Regions from separate parts of the Homo sapiens genome. Here all the other regions are linked to region 1. Evidence: fine-mapped expression QTL. A gene starts in region 1. Each other region holds a variant in brackets. All regions are shown on one strand. Distances are from middle to middle. Region 1 holds the start of SLC35F5 (solute carrier family 35 member F5). Region 2 holds the start of LOC112268423 (a long non-coding RNA gene). Region 3 overlaps SLC35F5 (solute carrier family 35 member F5).

Region 1 (7,424 bases):
TAGAGACATTACATACATTCTTGAATAATGAGATTGTAAAACATCCTCTTACTAAAATATTTTACTTTAAAAAAATTAAGGTAAGTTGAGTTTTTTCCTCCAGTTTCATCAAAGTACAACTGACAAACACCAAATATATGTATTTTTTACAACATGGTGTTTCGATATATGTATACATTGTGAAATGATTACCACAAACAACAAATTGTTTTTTCCTTTCTACTTTGCTTAGATATGGTTAAATGATAATTTAACCAGGTGCTATTTTGTCCTAAATTTTATTAACTAATATATAAAAACAAACTATTTATTTTAAATGAAAATAAAATTTAAAAGATAGGTTTAGTTCCCTGTCAATATCAAAGACATTTCTTTGAGGTAGAAGTACAAAATGTTCATCTAAAAGAAGGTTAGAGAAGAGTTTTAAAGCAAAAAATATATGGTCTATTAGATTCCAGAGATTAATTCTGAAAAGCATAAAAACTTATATACTTGGCCAGGTGAGGTGGCTCACGTCTGTAATCCCAGCACTTTGGGAGGCCGAGGCGGGCGGATCATGAGGTCAGGAGTTTGAGACCATTCTGACCAACATGGTGAAACCCCGTCTCTACTAAAAATACAAAAATTAGCCTGGCGTGGTGGGGTGTGCCTGTAATCCCAGCTATTCAGGGGGCCGGGGCAGGAGAATCCCTTGAACCCGGGAGGCGGAGGTTGCAGTGAGCCGAGATCGCACCATTGCACTCCAGCCTGGGCGACAGAGCAGAGCAAGACTCCATCTCAAAAAAAAAAGAAAAAAAAAAAAAAACTTATATACTCATAGGATACAATGCCAATGTCAATATTTACTTAGCTACAATATGAGACCTGAGTATTAAACTGCTTCTTTTGAAAATTAGGTTCATTTTATAAATGCCAGTTTCCTGCTGTATATTCGCCTTAAAATTGCAACGTAGAAGTTGAAATGCAGACTTCTGAAAATAAAAGTTGCTTTTTATAGGGATCATTAACCAAGCAGAATAAAGTATACAAGTAGAAAGAAAAACTAGCTTGCAAATTCAAAATGCCACATTACTACCAATAGGTCATCAATAAAGACACAATTTAACTGAAGGAAACTGTCAAGATACAATTTAACTGAAGGAAAATTATGAGGTATACCATGCATCTTATAATAAGGTTTGAGTCAGCAAGCATAAATGTGGATGCAACCACTCATGGGCATTGTAACAGTGACCTATACATGAAAACTCATTATTTTTACTCATTTGTCCAAAAGCACTCTGAACCTTCTACTAAATGGTGACATTGTTTTGCATCCTGACAGTTATTTCACTAGAAAATAATATTTACAGAAAGAATTTGAATTTAGAAAAAAAGCCACGAGTTACACTTTCAAATGTAAGAAAATATGCATAGTCTCTCTAAGTAACCCTCCCTAAAAGATACAAGAAAACTGTATGAAACAATAAAAAGGATCATCCTTTCAGTTTTAACTTCAAGTGGCAATAATTCAACGTTTTTTAAAAATTCAATAGTATTTAAGATACTGCTTTTAGAAAGCAGGAGATTGTAACGGCTAGAGTTACTACAGGTTAAGAGTTAACATTGTGGCTGTAATGTAACATCATTCCTGGACCAAAGGTACATACCGAAGTAAGTTCAGAGGAAGCAACCCATATCACATCAACAAGCAGAAGAATAACAATCCCAAGAGCCATTCGCCTGCGCTGAGTGAAACCACTGTTCTGGGAATTCATTCGGTTCATGACAAATACACACACCATTTGCAGTCTGTTTTTTAGAAAATACAGATCACATTAGAGATGATTTTAGAAAAACAACCATTAAAAATGAGAACATTAGTATAACAGAAACATTTGACTTTTGTTAGCTAATGTTCAGTGTGAAAGTTACATAGAGGATAAACGTGGAATCTACCTTGTCTTAAGAGCCCTTCTGAGATCCTCAAGAGCAATGCCGGAAAACTTGGCAGATCTCAGTCTAAAAGGAGGTGAAGAACTCAGCACCCCTAAAAACAACCATGAAATTATGCTATGAAAACGTGAATAACTCAAGGTAAGATTCATCACATCGTTTTTTACTCTTCATCTTCAAACTCAAAGCAAATCAATGAAAAGGACCAAAATGTGTTAAACATACTTGCCACCTTTCTCAGTACTTTCATGGTATCCACTGCACGCTTCAGATTATACTTAGAGAGATACGCGATACGGGGCGGGCAGGGAGGGGGAGTAATATACAACATACGGCACATTTAAGAACAGTTAACTACCAGAAAATAGCTTCTCTGAGTTTCACAAATACGGAACTCCATTCACCTCTCCATCCAGAGGAATCCATCCCTGGGGACAGCGTCTAGACACTGTTTCTAAAAGTGTCTTTTCTGTCCCTGATCTGCTGGAGTGGAATTTGGTTATCGGAGAGTAAGTGATTTGCTGTGGGTCTTGAAGGCACCTTTCCAATCTCTTCAAGTGGTAAAAGAAAAGGATTCTCCATGCTCCTCCACCCACCTCTATCAAAACATCCAGTCATTTTAAAAGAAACAGCTGGGAAAAGAAATCATCCTTCTGTTTTGGAGCGGGGAAGACAGTTAAGGCAGCGACGCCTCCCCGGGGAGCCGAGGCGAGGGCGCACGCACGGCTTCCTCAATTGCCAGCGGTGGGCGCAGGGCTCCGGCGCCCCTGTCAGCTCCCGCTCCCTCCGCCCCTAGAGACCTTCACGGTTTCGGTCAAGGCGCTCCTGCTGCCACCGAGGGCAGGAGGTGGTGCTGCTGGTGGGCACTCCGTCCCGGTTTGGGCTCCGGTGATGTCGGGGCCCTTCCCTGCCTGCCTACCTGGCCTTCCTGCCCCGCGATGGCGTCGTGGCGGCACCATGAGCGGACCGGTCAGGCCCCGCAGCCGCCCAGCGCCACGGCCGCGGCCTCGGACTCACAGAGCTGTCACCGCGCCTGACATCGCGCCGCACTGGAGGCCCAGCTCCTGAAGACGCGGTGCCCCTCAGGGAGAGGCTCCCGACACCACCCAACTCCACTCGGCCCAGGAGGGCGTGGAGCGGGTGAGGGGAAGGGACGGCACAGTCAGCTATGGCCGCGGAGGCCCGGAGATCTGCTCTGGCCCCGGCCCCGCCCCCGGCTTGCCCTCCGCGCGGCCCCGCCCCCAGTCCCCAGCCCGGAAGCGGTGGCGCGCGGGTGACGTCATAGGGGCGCGACGGCGGACTGCGCGCGGTCGCGTATGCAGCGAGGCTTGGCGGAGCTAGGGGAAGTAATGCGAGGCTCTGGTCGCCGAGCGAGGGCTCGCGGCGGCGAGGCGAAAGAAGAGAGAAGATAGGAAGAAGGGAAGTAGGGCGAGGTGGAGGAAGAAGAGGAAAGCGAGCGTGGGTGTCTGGGGCAGAGCAAAGGACGAGGGAGTGGCTAAACCTCCGCCCGCCTTAGAACGAAAGCTGGCCGTTCCGTTTCACAAACTGCGAACCTGAAACTTCGGATATCCCTTTCTCGATGACAGCCGAAACGCAAAGTGGCTTAGAGTACTTTTGATTCTTGAAACCTTTTGTATATAAACAAGATCTCAGCTCTAGGAGTTACAACCTACATCCTAGGCCAAGCTACTTCAACTTCTCTGGTCCTCGGTTTCCTTGTCTACGATAATGATAGTACCTGCCACATTGGTTTTTTGTGTGTATGCTAGGATTGCATGAGTTTACATATGTGAAGGACGTAGATCAATTCATGGCACATAATAAGAACCTCACAGACGTCAGCAATTTTTTGTTCGTTCGTTTGTTTTGAGACAGGGTCTTTCTCTGCCACCCAGGCTGCAGTGCAGTGGCACAATCACAGCTCACTGCAACCTCTGCTTCCCGGGCTCAAGCGATTCTCCAGCCTCAGCTTCCAGTGTAGCCGGGACTACAGGCGCAAGCCACCAATGCCCGGCTAATTTTTATATTTTTTAGTAGAGACAGGGTTTCGCCATGTTGGCCAGGCTGGTCTCGTACTCCTAGTCTTAAGTGATCCGCCCGCCTCGACCTCCCGAAGTGCTGGAATTACAGGCATGAGCCCTGCCAAATGTTGGCAGTTATTAAACTGTATAGATTTGTTCCTTAAATATTTTGACTATTCCATGAGAAAGGTTTGTCCAGCATCTTGATTTCTATCTACAAAACAAAAACAAGACTAAAGGGTTCAGTAATTTAACATCTTGGTCAGATGGCGTGAAGAAATTAAATTTTCTTACTCCTATAGTCGCGATGTAGTGTACCTCTTACCTTTTAAGTCTCGTTTCAGTGAAGTTGAATGCATATTCTAGCAACTAATAAAACAATACCAATGAACATTTTTTAATTGATCGAATCAGTTTCAAACTATCAGCATCAAACACCTCTAATAAGTCATTCAGAAACCTATTGTGCAGAGTAAAAAAAAAAACCAACCAGGCCGGTCGCGGTGGCTCATGCCTGTAATCCCAGCACTTTGGGAGGCCGAGGCAGGTGGATCACGAGGTCAGGAGATGGAGACCATCCTGGCTAACACGGTGAAACCCCGTCTCTATTAAAAAAATGCAAAAAATTAGGCGGGGGTGGTGGCGGGCGCCTGTAGTCCCAGCTACTCGGGAGGCTGAGGCAGGAGAATGGCGTGAACCCGGGAGGCGGAGCTTGCAGTGAGCCGAGATCGCGCCACTGCACTCCAGCCTGGGCAACAGAGCGAGACTCCGTCTCAAAATAAATAAATAAATAAATAAATCCTTAACCAACTACTTGGTATTACTACTTAGGGGAAATTTGGTTGCAGACATTAATCACATTAGTCTGGCACCAGTTTGTTTTTTATTTCATTAGCATTCTTTAGGGTATCAGCCCATAATACGCCTAAGAATTCTTTATGCTACATATTTGATGTATAGTCTTAAAAAATAAGAGCATTATAAATCTCTCTCAGAATCTAAGAGTCAGGAAAGCTGGATACCAATGCTTTATCTGACTACAACTTGTTATGTAATCCTGAGGATCATTCCACTCTCTACTGTGCCTTAGTTTCTTCTATAAATATGGGTTTCTGAATTAAAATATTGTAAATGATAGTACTTTGTTAAGTTACCATTATTACCACCTGTTTCCAGACCATCTGTTAAAGGACAAGCTGTGGATATTCTTGTAACGGATAAAGTAATTCTGGCAGACTGTCTTCAGCGAGTCTCAAAACATAGTTCAACTTCCATTAATGTCTTTTCCCTGGGTTCTTTAAGGGAAATTCCACTGGACTGCTGTAACATAGGCCCTAGTGTGTTTCTGTGCTTTGGCACCATCCTGAGCATCTCAGGCATTCCTTTTTTCATCCTTATTTCTCTGTGTTACCCAAGGCTAAATCTTCAGCTGTATAATTTCAAAGATAAGTTCCACAAGAGCAAGGATTTTGGTCTATTTTGTTCTTCACTATTATCCTCAGCATCTAGAATAGTGCTTACTATTCTCTAGCTGGCAGTCAATGTTTGTTCAATGAACTTGAACATCCTGCTGTCTCTTGATCTTTTCCTCATACTTAATTCCTTTCTGAAGTCTCCATTTCTGTCATTTAGTAGTGAGAAAAGAAAATTATTTTTATCTGAGGAATGTAGTTATTTTAAACTGTCAGGCCCAGAGGGACATTAAAAGGAGACAACAATCACATCCTACTTCTCCCTTGTGCTATGTATTCATCTCTTGAAACTACTTGCTTATGCCACAAGTAGCTATAAATTAACCTAATGTCCCATTGGACAGTATAACCCACATCCTATAGCTTAACAATGTAACCAATCACTAATAAATGTTATTTCCATAAACCAATAAGAATTTCTGTACACAACGTGGTATCAGCCCACTCCTTGTTCCCTTTTTTGCCTTTAAAGATTCCCTTGTGGGCCAGGCGCAGTCGCTCACGCCTGTAATCCCAGCATTTTGGGAGGCCGAGGCAGGCGGATCACGAGGTCAAGAGTTCAAGACCAGCCTGACCAACGTGGCGAAACCCTGTCTCTACTAAAAATACAAAAATTAGCCAGGTGTGGTGGCACGCACCTGTAATCGCAGCTACTCAGAGGCTGAGGCAGGAGAATCTCTTGAACCTGGGGGTGGAGGTGGCAGTGAGCCGGGATGGTGCCATTGACTCCAGCCTGGGCAACAGAGCGAGACTCTGTCTCAAAGTAAATAAATAAATAATAAAGATTCACCTGTGGTGGCTGCTAATGGTGTGTATATTCAAGGCAACTTGAATATATGCTCCTAGGTTGCAATCTTCAAGCTTGACCCAAATTAACTCTACTTATATTAATTTTGCTTCAGCTTCTTCCTTTTAGGTCAACAGAGTAGCACTATTTTTCTAAGTCCCACAGGCTTAATCTTTTAATTTTATTAATTTCCTCTTTACTCTTCAAAGTCGATCACTCTTGAAATTTCTCAATAGCAGGCCCTGAAGATACATAAGGTGTTAAGTTCAATGCCTTCCAAAATAATCCCCCAAAATACACTCTAGAGAATATAATTTCCCCAGTAAGGTGCATGTGTCACAGTGTGAATACAAAAGCAAAATCATATGTGTGTACAGGGCAGTCACTAACTGCCATATATCAGTCTCAAATAGTATAATTCAAATCCCAGCCCTAATAAAATTATAAATGACTATATCTTGAGTCTTTGGGGGTATAAATTAATAATTGAAACCACCTATAATAATTCTGTAATTCCAAGAGCAGAAATAAATGGAGAACACTCAAATGAGTACAAGCAAAGGATATTTATTCAAAGCTTGCTGTAGCAAAGCAGTCAGCCACCATCACTTGTGTTTTTCAGAGATCGGAAGGCAGGCAGGAGAGTGTGAAAGCTTTATAATGTGAAAAAAGGAAAGACTTCAGGTATGCCCTGATTTGATGTTGCTGGCTGGAGGCAGGTTAAGTGGAAGCACGGCATCCTATGTGGTCAGTTGAGGATACATATTTGGCTTTCTCTGGTTGGTCCTAAGTTGGAAACAGGACAAAAACTAAGGAAACTGGCAGTTGATCAAGTCCTGGGATGATTAATGCAGAAATAGCTGTTGTCTTTCTGGACTAGTTCCTGGAGAGGTTGTAGGTCAGAGTTCTATTTTTATATATGTTCTGGTCATTGTCCATTTCTATATTCAGTCTGTCACAAGAGTACTCTATATCATCTTATTTTCTGCAGTACCTACCAGAATGCTGGGCACATGATCAGCTTGACAAATGCTTGTTGATTTGATTTCCTTCTAAGATGTAATTAAATGGATTGAGGTTGACAATTTTTAAAAATTATCGTATATAAAAGACTTATTTTGAATTTGAACCTTACAACGTTTTTTTGTTTGTTTGTTTTTGTTTTGTTTTGAGATGGGATCTCACTCTGTCACCCAGATTGGAGTGCAG
Region 2 (7,424 bases), 110 kb before region 1:
AGCTTTTTCCTTTGGAAGATCTCTAGGTCCAGGGTTATCAAGAAGTGAAGGCTAAGACAGAGTTGTTAATATCCTGGTTAGGTGTTGAAGGAATGCCCCAGCACAAAGCCAATCTGCAAAGATTGAAAGAGATGCTTAAAAAAATTTTTTTTTTCAACCACGGATGAATACATAAAGAAAATGTGGCATATACGTACAATGGAACATCATTCAGCCTTTTTAAAAAAGGAAATCCTGGCCTGGCGCAGTGGCTCACGCCTGTAATCCCAGCACTTTGGGAGGCCGAGGCCAGCGGATCACAAGGTCAGGAGATCGAGACCATCCTGGCTACGGTGAAACCCCATCTCTACTAAAAATACAAAAAAAAAAAAAAAAAAAAACTAGCCAGGCATGGTGGCGGGCACCTGTAGTCCCAGCTACTTGGGAGGCTGAGGCAGGAGAATGGCGTGAACCCAGAAGGCAGAGCTTGCAGTGAGCCTAGATCACGCCACTGCACTCCAGCCTGGGCAACAGAGCGAGACTCAGTCTCAAAATAAAATAAAATAAAATAAAATAAAAAGGAAATCCTTCCATTTGCAGCAAATATACTAAGTTAAAGAAGCCGGACACAGTAGGACAGATACTACATGATCTCACTTACATAAGGAATCTAAAATATTCAAACTGAGAAGCAGAGAGTAGAATGGTGGTTGCCAAGGGCTAGGGGGAGGAGGAAACAAGCAGGCATTGCTCATTGGGTGCAAAGCTTCAGCTATGCCGGAGGGATGAGTCCTAGAGACCTCCTGTACAGCATAGTGACTATAGTTAACAACACTGTATTACATACTTAAAGATTTACTGGAAATAGATCTTATGTTAAGTGTCCTTATCACAAAACATGAGAATTAGAAATGAAGAGAGAGGGAGCAAACTTTTTGAAGTGATGAATATGTTTATGGCATTCATTGTGGTGACGTTTTTATGGGTATATACTTATTTCAAACTCATCAAGTGGTATACCTTAAATATGTATATCGATAAAATGGTTTTTAAAAATACATGAAGCAAATGCACATTTCTCCAAAGAAAATATACAAATGGCCGATAAGTACATGAAAAGATGCTCAACATCATTAGTCATGAGAGAAATGCAAATCAAAACCAGAATGAGATGCCACTTACTGGTAATGAAAAAGATAATAGCAAGTGTTAATGAGGCTGTGGAGAAATCGGAACCCTTATACACTGCTGAGGAGGAAGTAAAATAGTGCAGGCACTTTGGAAAACAGTTTGGCAGTCCTGGAATGGTGAAATATCGAGTTAACCATATGATCCTGCAAATCTACTCCTAGGTATACACTCAAGAGAAATGAGAACATGTGCTCACAGAAAAGCTTGTATATGAGTGGTTATAGCAGCACTATCCATAATAACCAAAAAGCTGGAAATAATCCAAATATCCATAAAATGTGGTATATCCACACGATGAAATATTACTCAAAAATACAAAGAAATGAAGTGCTAATATGTGCTACAACATGGATGAAACTGAAAAAAAAGTATGTTGAATGAAAGACGCCACGTATAAAGCACCGCAGGTTGTGCGATTTCATTAATATGAAATGTCCAGAACAGGCAAATCTACAGAGACAGAAAGATTACTGAACAGAAAGATTACAGACAAAAATAACAGATAGTGGTTGTTTAGGGTGGGGGGGTTGCCGGTGAAGTTGGGAAGGAATTTGGTGGGGGCCAGGAAGCTAAGGGTACAGATTTTCAAGTAACGAGAATACTTTAAAATTAATTGTGGGTGGGTGCAGTGGCTCACGCCTGTAATCTCAGCACTTCGGGAGGCCAAGGAGGGCAGATCACTTGAGGCCAGGAATTCAAGACCAGCATGGCCGACATGGCAAAACCCCGTCTTTACTAAAAACATTAAAATTAGCTGGGTGTGGCGGCACATGACTGTAGTCCCAGTTACTAGGGAGGCTGAGATGAAAGGATCGCTTAAGCCCAAGAGTTCAAGGCTGCAGTGACCTATGATTGCACCACTACACTCCAGCTGGGATGACAGAATGAGACCCTGCCTCTAAATAAAATAAATACATAAATAAATAAGAGAAGTCCAGCAGCATATTAAAAGGATAATACACATGACTAAAGTGGAGTTTATCCCAGGAGTGCAATGTCAGTTAAACATTTAAAAATTATTTAATGGGGCCGGGCGCGGTGGCTCACGCCTGTAATCCCAGCACTTTGGGAGGCCGAGGCGGGCGGATCACGAGGTCAGGAGATCGAGACCATCCTGGCTAACACAGTGAAACCCTATCTCTACTAAAAAATACAAAAAAAATTAGCCGGGCATGGTGGCGGCCACCTGTAGTCCCAGCTACTCGGGAGGCTGAGACAGGAGAATGGCATGAACCCGGGAGGCGGAGCTTGCAGTGAGCTGAGATCGCACCACTGCACTCCAGCTCGGGCGACAGAGTGAGACTCCGTCTCAAAAAAAAAAAAAAATTAATGGGCCTGGGCACGGTGGCTCACGCCTGTAATCCCAGCACTTTGGGAAGTCAAGGTGGGCGGATCCCGAGGTCAGGAGTTCGAGACCAGCCTGGCCAACATGGTGAAACCCCGTCTCTACTAAAAATACAAAAAATTAGCCAGGCGTGGTCGTGGGCGCCTATAGTCCCAGCTACTCGGGAGGCTGAAGCAGGAGAATCGCTTGAACCCACGAGGGGGAGGTTGCAGTGAGCTGAGATCACACGCCACTGCACTCTAGCCTGAGCCACAGTGCAAGATTCTGTCTCAAAAAAAAAAAAAGTATTGGAAGCAAGAAAAGGATAAACTAAATCTTGCGGTACTGGATAAGAGGTGAAAGTATTATCGTGAACTCTCATTTAGCTTTATATATATATAAAATGGATAGATACAAAAACAATAATAGATACATGTGTGTACATGGGTTAGTATACAACATATATTACCTAACTGTCTCATCCAGCTTTGAGGGCTTAGAAGTAATACATCTCAGTATTGACAAGCACACCCAGTGTCCAGATCTTAGTTTCTAAAAAAACACTTTCCAGTGAAAAAACCAGATTACTTTAGAGAAATGGTGGATTCCAGGGTTGAAGCAGGGGAAATGCAAAATGAGCCTGTAGCACCTATTATATCAGAAAGGAAGGATGTGCTCAACAAATTAAATGAAGCCGGGAATGAAGCCACGGGTGCAATGGCTCACACCTGTAATCCCAGCACTTTGGAAGGCAGAGGTAGGAGGATTGCTTGAGGCCGGGAGTTCAAGACCACACCAGCCTGGGCTGTAACATAGAAAGAACCTATCTCCATAAAATAAAAATAAATTAGTAATAATTTTTTAATTTAAAAAATGATGAAGGCATGTCAAAGGGACTCAAGAGCCAATATGAAAGGGCTCCCAATGGGCAAAGCTGGAAAAATGTGAGCAACAAATTATATAATGTCATATTGGTTTATAGTCCACTGTATAAAATAAATATACATTAGGGATCTACACTAATATAATGAATAGATGAATAATAAGAGACAAATCTTTCATACAGAAAAATTAAAAATACTATGTGTAACTCCTGCCATCTGCAGGGGGTGGAGCCAACACCCCCAACCACCATCACTACAGAGAATGGGCTGGACTGAGTGGCTCACTTCTAAAGAAGCACTTATAGAAAGC[G/A]AACAGTGATGAAACCCAGAAAACACTGCCCTGACCAACGGATCAAGGTTAATGTCATCACTGTTGTCATATGTATGTTGTAGACTCCTGATAGGATGTGATGAGGATAATTTGTCTCTATGAGACTTTTTCCCAAAATTCATAATCCCAATATAATCATGAGAAAAATATTACACAAATTCAAATGGAGGGATATTCTACAAAATACCTAACTATCCCTCAAATTTGTCAAGGTCATATAAGAGCAAAGAAAGACTGAGAAATAGTCTCAAACTAGAGGATTAAATCTGTAACAATCTGTGACTACTATAAATCTAAAGTTGTTCTAAAATAGTTTATTTAATACACCAGATTAACTAAGTAAAAACAGAAAAATTACATGATCATCTCAATAAATGTAGGAAAAGCTGGCAAAATTCAACACTCATTACTGTGTAAAAAATAAAAATATAAACCTCTTAGCAAAAATATAAACCTCTATATTTTTCTTAGAGAATAAAATATCCTCAGCCTAATAAATGGTATTTGTGAAAAACCCACAGTTAACATCACACTTAATGGCAACAGACTGAAGCTTTTCATGCTTAAGCTCAGGAACAAGAATGTCCACTCTCACCACTTCCATTCAGCATTGTACTGTGAAATAAGGCAAGAAAAACAAGGGCTTTCAGATAGAAAAACATAAATAAGGTTGGGCGTGGAGGCTCACACCTGTAACCCCAGCACTTTGGGAGGCCGAGTTGGGTGGTTCACCCGAGGTCAGGAGTTCAAGACCAGCCTGGCCAACATGGTGAAACCCAATCTCTACTAAAAATACAAAAATTAGCCAGGCGTTCTGGCACATGCCTGTAGTCCCAACTACTCGTGAGACTGAGGTAGGAGAATCACTTGAACCTGGGAGGCAGAAGTTGCAGTGAGCCAAGATTGTGCCACTGCACGCCAGCCTGGAAGACAGAGCGAGACTCCATCTCAAAAATAAAGAAAGAAATAACACTGTCTTTATTCACAGAAGACTTGATTGTCTATGTTGAAATCCAGTGGCAGCTACAGAGCACCAGAATTAATAAATGAACTTGGCATGGTTTCAAGATACATGGGAACCACACAAAAATCAATTGTATTTCTGTATACTGGCAGTCAACAATTGAATATCAGAATACGAAATATTGAGAAATAATTCTGACAAAATATGTGAAAAACCTGCACACTCAAAATTACAAAACATTGCTGAGAGAAATTGAAGCAGCCCTAAATAAATGAATAGATACCCTGAGCTCATGACTCAGAGGACACAGTACCCTAAATAAATGAATAGATACCCTGAGCTCATGACTCAGAGGACACAGTACCCTAAATAAATGAATAGATACCCTGAGCTCATGACTCAGAGGACACAGTACCCTAAATAAATGAATAGATACACTGAGCTCATGACTCAGAGGACGCAGTACCCTAAATAAATGGATACACTGAGCTCATGACTCAGAGGACGCAGTACCCTAAATAAATGAATAGATACACTGAGCTCATGGCACAGAGGACACAGTACCCTAAATAAATGAATGGATACCCTGAGCTCATGACTCAGAGGACACAGTACCCTAAATAAATGAATAGATACCCTGAGCTCATGACTCAGAGGACGCAGTACTCTAAATAAATGAATAGATACCCTGAGCTCATGACTCAGAGGACACAGTACCCTAAATAAATGAATAGATACCCTGAGCTCATGACTCAGAGGACGCAGTACCCTAAATAAATGAATAGATACCCTGAGCTCATGACTCAGAGGACGCAGTACCCTAAATAAATGAATAGATACCCTGAGCTCATGACTCAGAGGACGCAGTACCCTAAATAAATGAATAGATACACTGAGCTCATGACTCAGAGGACGCAGTACCCTAAATAAATGAATAGATACCCTGAGCTCATGACTCAGAGGACGCAGTACCCTAAATAAATGAATAGATACCCTGAGCTCATGACTCAGAGGACGCAGTACCCTAAATAAATGAATAGATACACTGAGCTCATGACTCAGAGGACGCAGTACCCTAAATAAATGAATAGACACACTGAGCTCATGACTCAGAGGACACAGTACCCTAAATAAATGGATACACTGAGCTCATGACTCAGAGGACACAGTACCCTAAATAAATGAATAGATACCCTGAGCTCATGACTCAGAGGACACAGTACCCTAAATAAATGAATAGATACCCTGAGCTCATGACTCAGAGGACGCAGTACCCTAAATAAACGAATAGATAGCCTGAGCTCATGACTCAGAGGACGCAGTACCCTAAATAAATGAATAGATACCCTGAGCTCATGACTCAGAGGACGCAGTACCCTAAATAAATGAATACATACCCTGAGCTCATGACTCAGAGGACGCAGTACCCTAAATAAATGAATAGATACCCTGAGCTCATGACTCAGAGGACGCAGTACCCTAAATAAATGAATACATACCCTGAGCTCATGACTCAGAGGACGCAGTACCCTAAATAAATGAATAGATACCCTGAGCTCATGACTCAGAGGACGCAGTACCCTAAATAAATGAATAGATACCCTGAGCTCATGACTCAGAGGACGCAGTACCCTAAATAAATGAATAGATACACTGAGCTCATGACTCAGAGGACGCAGTACCCTAAATAAATGAATAGATACCCTGAGCTCATGACTCAGAGGACGTAGTACCCTAAATAAATGAATAGACACACTGAGCTCATGACTCAGAGGACACAGTAACCTAAATAAATGGATACACTGAGCTCATGACTCAGAGGACACAGTACCCTAAATAAATGAATAGATACCCTGAGCTCATGACTCAGAGGACACAGTACCCTAAATAAATGAATGGATACCCTGAGCTCATGACTCAGAGGACACAGTACCCTAAATAAACGAATAGATACACTGAGCTCATGATTCAGAGGACGCAGTACCCTAAATAAACGAATAGATACCCTGAGCTCATGACTCAGAGGACGCAGTACCCTAAATAAATGAATAGATACCCTGAGCTCATGACTCAGAGGACACAGTACCCTAAATAAATGAATAGATACCCTGAGCTCATGACTCAGAGGACACAGTACCCTAAATAAATGAATAGATACCCTGAGCTCATGACTCAGAGGACGCAGTACCCTAAATAAATGAATAGACACACTGAGCTCATGACTCAGAGGACACAGTACCCTAAATAAATGGATACACTGAGCTCATGACTCAGAGGACACAGTACCCTAAATAAATGAATAGATACCCTGAGCTCATGACTCAGAGGACACAGTACCCTAAATAAATGAATAGATACCCTGAGCTCATGACTCAGAGGACGCAGTACCCTAAATAAATGAATAGACACACTGAGCTCATGACTCAGAGAACACAGTAACCTAAATAAATGGAAACACTGAGCTCATGACTCAGAGGACACAGTACCCTAAACAAATGAATAGATACCCTGAGCTCATGACTCAGAGGACATAGTACCCTAAATAAATGAATAGATACCCTGAGCTCATGACTCAGAGGACGCAGTACCCTAAATAAATGAATAGATACCCTGAGCTCATGACTCAGAGGACGCAGTACCCTAAATAAATGAATAGATACCCTGAGCTCATGACTCAGAGGACGCAGTACCCTAAATAAATGAATAGATACCCTGAGCTCATGACTCAGAGGACGCAGTACCCTAAATAAA
Region 3 (7,424 bases), 29 kb before region 1:
GGTGGATCCAATTTAGCTAAAGGCTAAAGCCTTTTGTCATCTGTTAATAGTTAAGGTTAAAAAAATCGAGTATCTAAAATGTACATAACTAAAGATGAAAAAATTAATGAGCAAATGGATTATGATTTTAAAGAATTTTAGATCAGCAAAGGAGTTTAGATAAGAACATAAATTACTACAATACAAAGTAAATCTTTAAGTATTACACAAAAGAGAGTGATATGGGGGATACCAAGAAAATAGGTATTTCTTAACTGGGCAGGGAGACAGCACTGTAGGCAGAGCATTAAGGAAGACTCCACAAAAAAGTCTATTTCTGTTGCAGTCTTTTGCAAGGGAAAACTAGTTAGCAGTTTCAATGGGTATGTAATAAAACTCATTTTATTCACTTAGGTTTTATTCATTCTATTCATTTCAAGTTTCTATTAAATAAAAATAGGACTAAGTATAAAGCTCTGTTATTTGAAAGGTCTCTCAAACTCCATACATGATACTGTCTTCATACTATTTTAAGTTTATTATCGCATATCAGTATATTGGATATACAGCATATCAAAGTATGTTAACATCTCAAATCAATCAGAGTTTAAGGTTTACATATCTGGCTCACCCATATGAAAGGTTCTGAAAATAAATAAAACAAAAACACCTATGAACAAGCAAACAGATATTCCAAAGCCTCTTAAATAAGCAGCATCTCCTGGATTCTCAACTAGAACTCATGCACTCATACTTGGCATACATACCTCATATGTTTGGATATCCATTAGATAATGACTACTTTCATTTGCATAACACTCCACTTTCTAAAACATTTTTACAGATTTAGACCATTCATATTCATTCTTTCATTCAACAAGTATTTATTGAGCTCCTTCTGTGGACAAGGTACTACTCTAGAATGGGCACACAGAAGTTAAAAAACAAAGTCCCTGCTCTAGTGGAGTTAAAGTATTCAGTTGTATGTGTGTTGCAGAATGGGGTGCACAGGAAGGGCCACCAGCAAACAGACAAATATAAATGCTTAAAATATCCAAAAATTAATCAACTGATAATAATTGGAGAATAAACAGTACATACCACAACCACAGGAACTCTGAGAGTACTGTTCCAATAAGGCCATTAATGATAATGCACATTAATACTACTTTATTGGGAAACTCGAAGTCCTCAAATCCAGTATAATGAAGTAAAAAGAAACCTGGCCATAAGAGCAGCAGATTAAACAAACCTACAAAACCTGAACATGTATAAAAGAGACAAGAGTTAAAATTGATTTATTTCTATTTTCCAAGCTTATTAACTCTAAAATCAAAATTAGATTTTGCACAAAAGCACTCTGGGAGGTTTCCTTAGCTAAAACTTCTGTTGGTTTGTTTTTAAGTCAGTCCTGTGAATAGCTCAACGCCATAGAAAAAAAAACTGTCTGAAGCAACTGGTGATCACTCAGTTCAACTACCCACATTGTATGGGAGCAACTACTATGGAATAAACCACTTAGGACAACTCAACAAGAAGGGTTGTTAACCTTAGCTACTGATAATATAGTGCCCTAGAACTTAAAAGAAATAACTGGTATGTATGTGTTTGTGTACTCAGCCTAAATTAATTTTGAGGAATTAGATGGTTTGCTCTCTGATTCAATTATTTATGTCCAAAACACTTGTGCTTTGCGAGCAATAATGGAAGAAGGTTCCAAAGGAGATAAAACTCTTGGTTCCTGCATTCCCAGACCTCTAACTAGTTAGTGAGAAAGTATGTACACACAAAGAGCTATTCAACGTATGAGCAAAGTACAGACTGACTAGTGGTTAAGTGTGTGCTCGGCCATCTGACTGCCTGGGTCCAATCCCAGCTCTATATATCACTCAATAGTAGTGCAAGCCTTATACCTCTTTAAGCCTCAGTTTTCCAATCTATAAGCATAAAATAACATTTAATAATATTTAATTAGGTTGCTGGGAAGATTAGACAAAACACATAAAATATAGCATAGTATCTGGCACATGGTAAGCACTTAATAAAAGTTAGCTAATATTATTATAGAAATTAAGTTTATATATGACTATATACATGTAAAAGTAAAGAATATAAAGAAAAAAGATTACAATTCTATAATAAATTTTGTTGTACTTCCTATACAGTTTATGTCACAAATTTGCTATATGATTTATGTAACTATATAGCTTTCTTAAAAGAAAATTAAATTACAGTAGATATATAATTGATACTTACTATGTCACCTAAATAATAAACCAGTCATTAGGATGCCTAGTTAAATCTTAACAGGGCAGGAGCACCCACTCTCTGTCTGATGCTAAAGACTCACAGCCACCCCACTTCTGTGAAGGGGGGCAAATAAGTCTGCCTTTCCCAGCAAGTTCCCACCCTCCACTCCACCCCATCTTCTGCAGCTCATGACTAATTGATGGAGGCTTTACGAGGCCAGCCATCACGACTCAAGGCCCAGACATATTAGCTGCTCTCCCTCTGCTCCCCGCCTCAGTACCTGCAATGAATTGGGCCAAACCTCAGTTATACTTGTGCGCCACACGGTTCTTTCCCCTTCTCTATCTTGCTTCCTTCACTGCAAGTTTTTCCTTCAGTGAACTCCCCACAAAAAATCACCCACACAAATTCCCCATCTCATATCCTGTTTTAGGGAGCCCAACTATTATGGTTTGGCTCTGTGTCCCCACCCAAATCTCATCTTGACTTGTAATCCCCACGTGTCAGGGAGGGACCTGGTGGGAAGTGACTGGATCATGTGGGTGGTTTCCCCCATGCTGTTCCCATCATAGTGAGTTCTTACAAGATTTGATGGTTTTAAAGTGTTTGGCAGTTCCCCCTTCTCAAGTTCTCTCTCTCTTGCCAGTGTGTAAAACATGCCTTGCTTCCCCTTCACCTTACGTCATGATTGTAAGTTTCCTGAGGCCTCCCCAGCCATGCAGAACTGTGAGTCAATTAAACCTCTTTTGTTTATAAATTACCCAGTCTCAGGTAGTTCTTTATAGCAGTGTGAAAACAGACTAATACACCAACTTACATCTATTGATTAAAAAAACAACAACAAAAGAACACATATACAGCAAGGACACGACCTAAAATGCTTAAATAACATTACAAAGTTGTTTTAATGAAACACCAAAACGTGGCATTACCAAGATCTAAATCTATTTTCTAGTCCCTGAAGTGCTGAGTCTATGAAATCCCACGTAAATTAACATCCTTTGACCTAGAGACAAAAGTCCCAATGACCCCACCTATTCCCTCGACTGCCCAGAATCTGGCGCCACATGCCTTTCTGTTCTTCTTCCACAAAGCGAAGTTCCAGCACAATCATTCAGATCTACTCACTGCTCCCTGTTAAGCCTCTGCTCACACTCCCTTGCCTGAAGAGCCCCCAACATCCCAATCCTAACTTCTCCGAATCCTGTCTATTCTAAAGCCCAGGGCAGATCAATATTGCTTTACATATCACATCACATATGAACAGGACCAACACAAGCCACATGTCTATATGCACTCTCCCTAATATGAGTAAATTAAGCAATTTTTCTTGCAAGTTGTCA[A/G]TGTATAAATTTTTAAAAAGTACCACTGACCCAACCACCTACCTATAACACTAAAAAAAACTAGCATTTTATTCCATTCCAAATAAAATTTTCTATGACTCTCAAATAAAATATCATTAAAATTATCTTTTCTTTTTTAAGAGACAGCATCTTACTCTGTTACCCAGGCTAGAGTGCAGAGACACAATCATAGCTCACTGCAGACTCGAACTCCTGGACTCAAGTGATTCTCCTGCCTCAGCCTCTCATGCAGCTGGGATTACAAACACATGTAACCAAACCTGGCTATTATGCTATATTTCTTGAATTCTATATTTAAAAAGAATTTAAGCAATCATTCAGCCTCATGGCTTTTCAAACATTTTATTTTTGTTAGTCTTTAGGTACAAGTATTTAATCTATTTTTAGTTTTAAAATAGTTTTAAAATAGTCTTTTTTTAAAAAAAATTAAATAGAAATGCAGTCTCCCTATGTTGCCCAGGCTGATCTTGAATCCCTGGCTTCAAGCAGTCCTCCTGCCTCAGCCTCTCAAAGTGCTGGGATCACAGGCGTGAGCCACAATGCCCAGCCATAAGAAAAATCTTTACTATAAATTAAATTCTAATGCAAAATGCTCAACAAAGTAGAGCTGTTCCACAGGTGAAGCAGCAAAGGAGTCCAAGAACTAGACCCCTGCATGCAACTGTATTTCCTTCCAACCATCCCAGAAGCCTACCTATTCCCTAAATCACAGTTTAGAGGCCATTCATCTAGTCCAATTTCCTCATATTTCAGATGCCTATGAGATAAATAAAGTTACAACAGCTGGATTCCAGGTCTCCTGACTCCTTGTAAGCTGCACTTTGAACTCTTATCATGGAGCTTCTTTATCTATTTATATTCAGATATCTTTTGAAAGATTATCTTGTCAATGTGTTCTTCTCCAGTCCTACAGATATCGCAAGTTCTTTCCTGAACTGATGTCAGGCAAAGGAAAATTTATAAACCATATCCAGAAACTATAATTGGGTAATTTGAGAATGAATCTATGTTATAAAAGTGTCTGTGTCTTAAAGATAAAATGCAAATGAAAAGCATTTAAATGGCCCACAATTTTTAATGTACATAAGTACATAGACTGCGACAGCATTAAACATATAATTCGGGGGCAGTCTCCCCAGTCCTTTGCTAACTATTCAAAAATGGCAAAATGTAAAATACAGCAGGTAAACTCTCACATGCTTGTAAGAGCATAAATCTGTCCTATCAGTGAGATAAATATCTGACTTGCAGTCTGAAGACATCAATTTGAAAAAAGTGTTAGGAGTTTCTTTCTGTCTCACACTGAGGAGATGGGCACTCCCTCATAGGTGCACAACTATGCAGGATAAAGTAAGGAAAACATTGGGACTGGCCTTCATAATCTTTAAATGGTTTTAAAGAATCATACGGAAGAAAAAAAAAGGCTTCCCTATTCCCTCTGAAAAACAAAAGCAAAACCCTGTGTTAATCATTTAGAGTAAATAGCCTCCCAAGTTACATATATTCTTACCAAAGAACATTGGAATATCCAACTTGTCTTCTCTATCTACTTTTCTCTTAATCATAACAATATAGACAGCATAGAGCATGGCTCCAGCAAGAGACCAAATGGAACCTGTAAAAATGGACATGATTTAAAGCAATCACTCATTAGCTCATTCAATATACGCTTAAAATCCAATAATGTGTCAGATAATATTGCAAGAATATACAAAAGTGAAAAGATATATAATGATATAAATCACCTTTATATTGATATAAAGATATATAATGAAAAGGTATAGCCTACCCCATCCAAGTCTTCTAGGAGTACAGGAAGGAGTTTAATGTGTTAACAAATAAATGCAAAAGCATTCACCTCAATGATTCGACCAAAACCTATACATATTATAATAATACAACTCCAAAGTAACACTTTGTTTTTAATTTAGAAATGCATGTTTCTTATTTTACCCTACCTAAACAATCTTGACACCTGGCATTTTCCAACTTAACAAATTTTTTTTCCATCACTAAGCTGTTGCTTGTATTGTCTTCCTTACCCCCATATATCATTCTTAATATGTATTGCACTACCACTCCCATCTTAAAGGCTCTGTTAAAGTTCCATTTCTTCCACAAAGCATCCTCTTTCTAATCGGCTGTATTTCTGTCCTGTCTTCTGTTTTAGACAATACTTACTATTGTCAAGTGTGGTATTAGTTTAATCCCTAGTAGCTTCATTTTATAAATCTCATATTGTTCCAAATCAAGAACTCCTTGAAAACTGCAAACACATAATTTATACTTTTTAATGTTCCAAAACAGCTAACATAATACAGATCTCACAGTACATGAATAATAAATACTGATTCTCTTTATTAACTCTCAAAACCATTTAAACTTTTCAAAACAGCTAAATAATGTTCTGCCAAGTGGTCATATTCAATACTTTAATCAATTATTCAAAAGACGAATGTTTTATTAAATTTTTTTTATTATTTTCAAACTTTTTTTAAAGCTAAGGAAAAGCCTGTCAACAAAATCTTGCATACACATGCACATACCAAATACATATATTGTTTTATATACACAAAGCTGCTCTGGGTGAGAAAGAGGTGAGGAGGTTCAAAGCACAGCTCACTGGGTAGTAGCTAGGAACAATTTAGAAAGCATTGTTCTATTCAATAAACCTCAAATATCTAAAGAAGTATTCAAAGAGAAATAATTAATCTAGGTTTATTTTTTATTATGAGGTCTCACTATGCTGCCCAGGCTGGTATTGAACTCCTGGCCTCAAGCGATCCTCCCACCTTGGCCTCCCAAAGCACTGGGATAACAGGCATGAGTCACCATGCTCAGCCCAGCTAGGTTCTGATTACTTTTGTTTTTGTTAAGTCTAAGCAATGGATCAAAATCTAAGTGTTCACCATAGCAGTAACTATGAATCAAGAATCAAGAGTAAATGGCAATATTCGTGGGTGAAGATATGACAGCAACAGGAAATTTGTATAGCCTCAAAGTATCCCCCACAAGATGCTTATTACTTACAGTGGGAAATATTAGTAACTTTACACTGGAGTAGGGTGGTTAATTTTAACCACCTTAAAATTAACATTACCAGCAACAGGACAAATCAATATCATGTGCCTTTTGGTAGAATGCACTGATCAGGAAACAATATCACTTCCATTATATTCTTACCAAAAATGCACAACCTCAATTTAACCAAAGAAAATGTCAGACAAATGCAAATTGAGGAACATTCTACAAACCAACTAGGTGGTACCCTACAAAAGTGTCAAGGTCATAAAAGACAAGAAGACTGAGGAACACTTCTGCATTTAAAGGAAACTAAGGAAACACGACAATTAAATGCAATAAATGATCCTAGATCAGAAAAAGAACATTAGTGGAAAAAGTGGCAAAATTTGAAAAGGCTTTATAGATAACAGTATCATAATCAACGTTAATTTCTGATTTTTATAACTGTATAATATTTATGTAAGTTGTTAACATTTGAAAAATCTGGGTGAAGGCTATGAGAATTCACTAAACTATTTACGCATTTTTTTATGTTATTTCCAAAGGAAAAGTTCAAAAAAAACCCACCCTGCTAGTGCCTACCCTTTGTGCGTTCATCTGTGCACATGAGCACGCACATGTAACTTTCTTATTTACTCTAACAGAGAGAATCCAGAGTCCAGTACTTACCTACTGTGTCTCTTCCAGCAGGTTTTTCAGACCCTGCCAGGTTTACCAGTACAACGCCTCCAATGCTATGAGAATAACAGTCATTAATGATGAGCTAAAGAATTCTGAAAAGCCTAATCATGAAGATAAAAATTATTT

The links. PIP is the estimated chance that this variant, and not a neighbour inherited with it, causes the effect. A credible set is the group of variants that fine-mapping cannot tell apart.
Region 2: its variant is the best candidate, but not a certain one, in a credible set for the expression of SLC35F5 in whole blood (TOPMed, PIP 0.75).
Region 3: its variant is the best candidate, but not a certain one, in a credible set for the expression of SLC35F5 in whole blood (INTERVAL, PIP 0.69).

The regions. Positions count from the first base shown.
Region 1 is chr2:113,753,516-113,760,939 of GRCh38, forward strand. SLC35F5 (solute carrier family 35 member F5) reads right to left here and starts at 3,127. Exons shown (of 16, transcript NM_025181.5): 1 at 2,855-3,127; 2 at 1,939-2,029; 3 at 1,650-1,791. The coding sequence starts at 2,894. RefSeq lists a silencer at 3,053-3,282 and enhancers at 3,493-3,672, 3,853-3,902.
Region 2 is chr2:113,645,678-113,653,101 of GRCh38, forward strand. It overlaps LOC112268423 (a long non-coding RNA gene), which reads right to left and starts at 217. Exons shown (of 2, transcript XR_002959416.2): 1 at 1-217. The variant G/A (reference allele first, on the strand shown) is at 3,689.
Region 3 is chr2:113,724,298-113,731,721 of GRCh38, forward strand. It overlaps SLC35F5 (solute carrier family 35 member F5), which reads right to left. Exons shown (of 16, transcript NM_025181.5): 10 at 7,287-7,351; 11 at 5,104-5,208; 12 at 1,081-1,240. Among named protein-coding and RNA genes, the nearest start is that of MIR4782, 6.6 kb to the left of the region's middle. The variant A/G (reference allele first, on the strand shown) is at 3,573.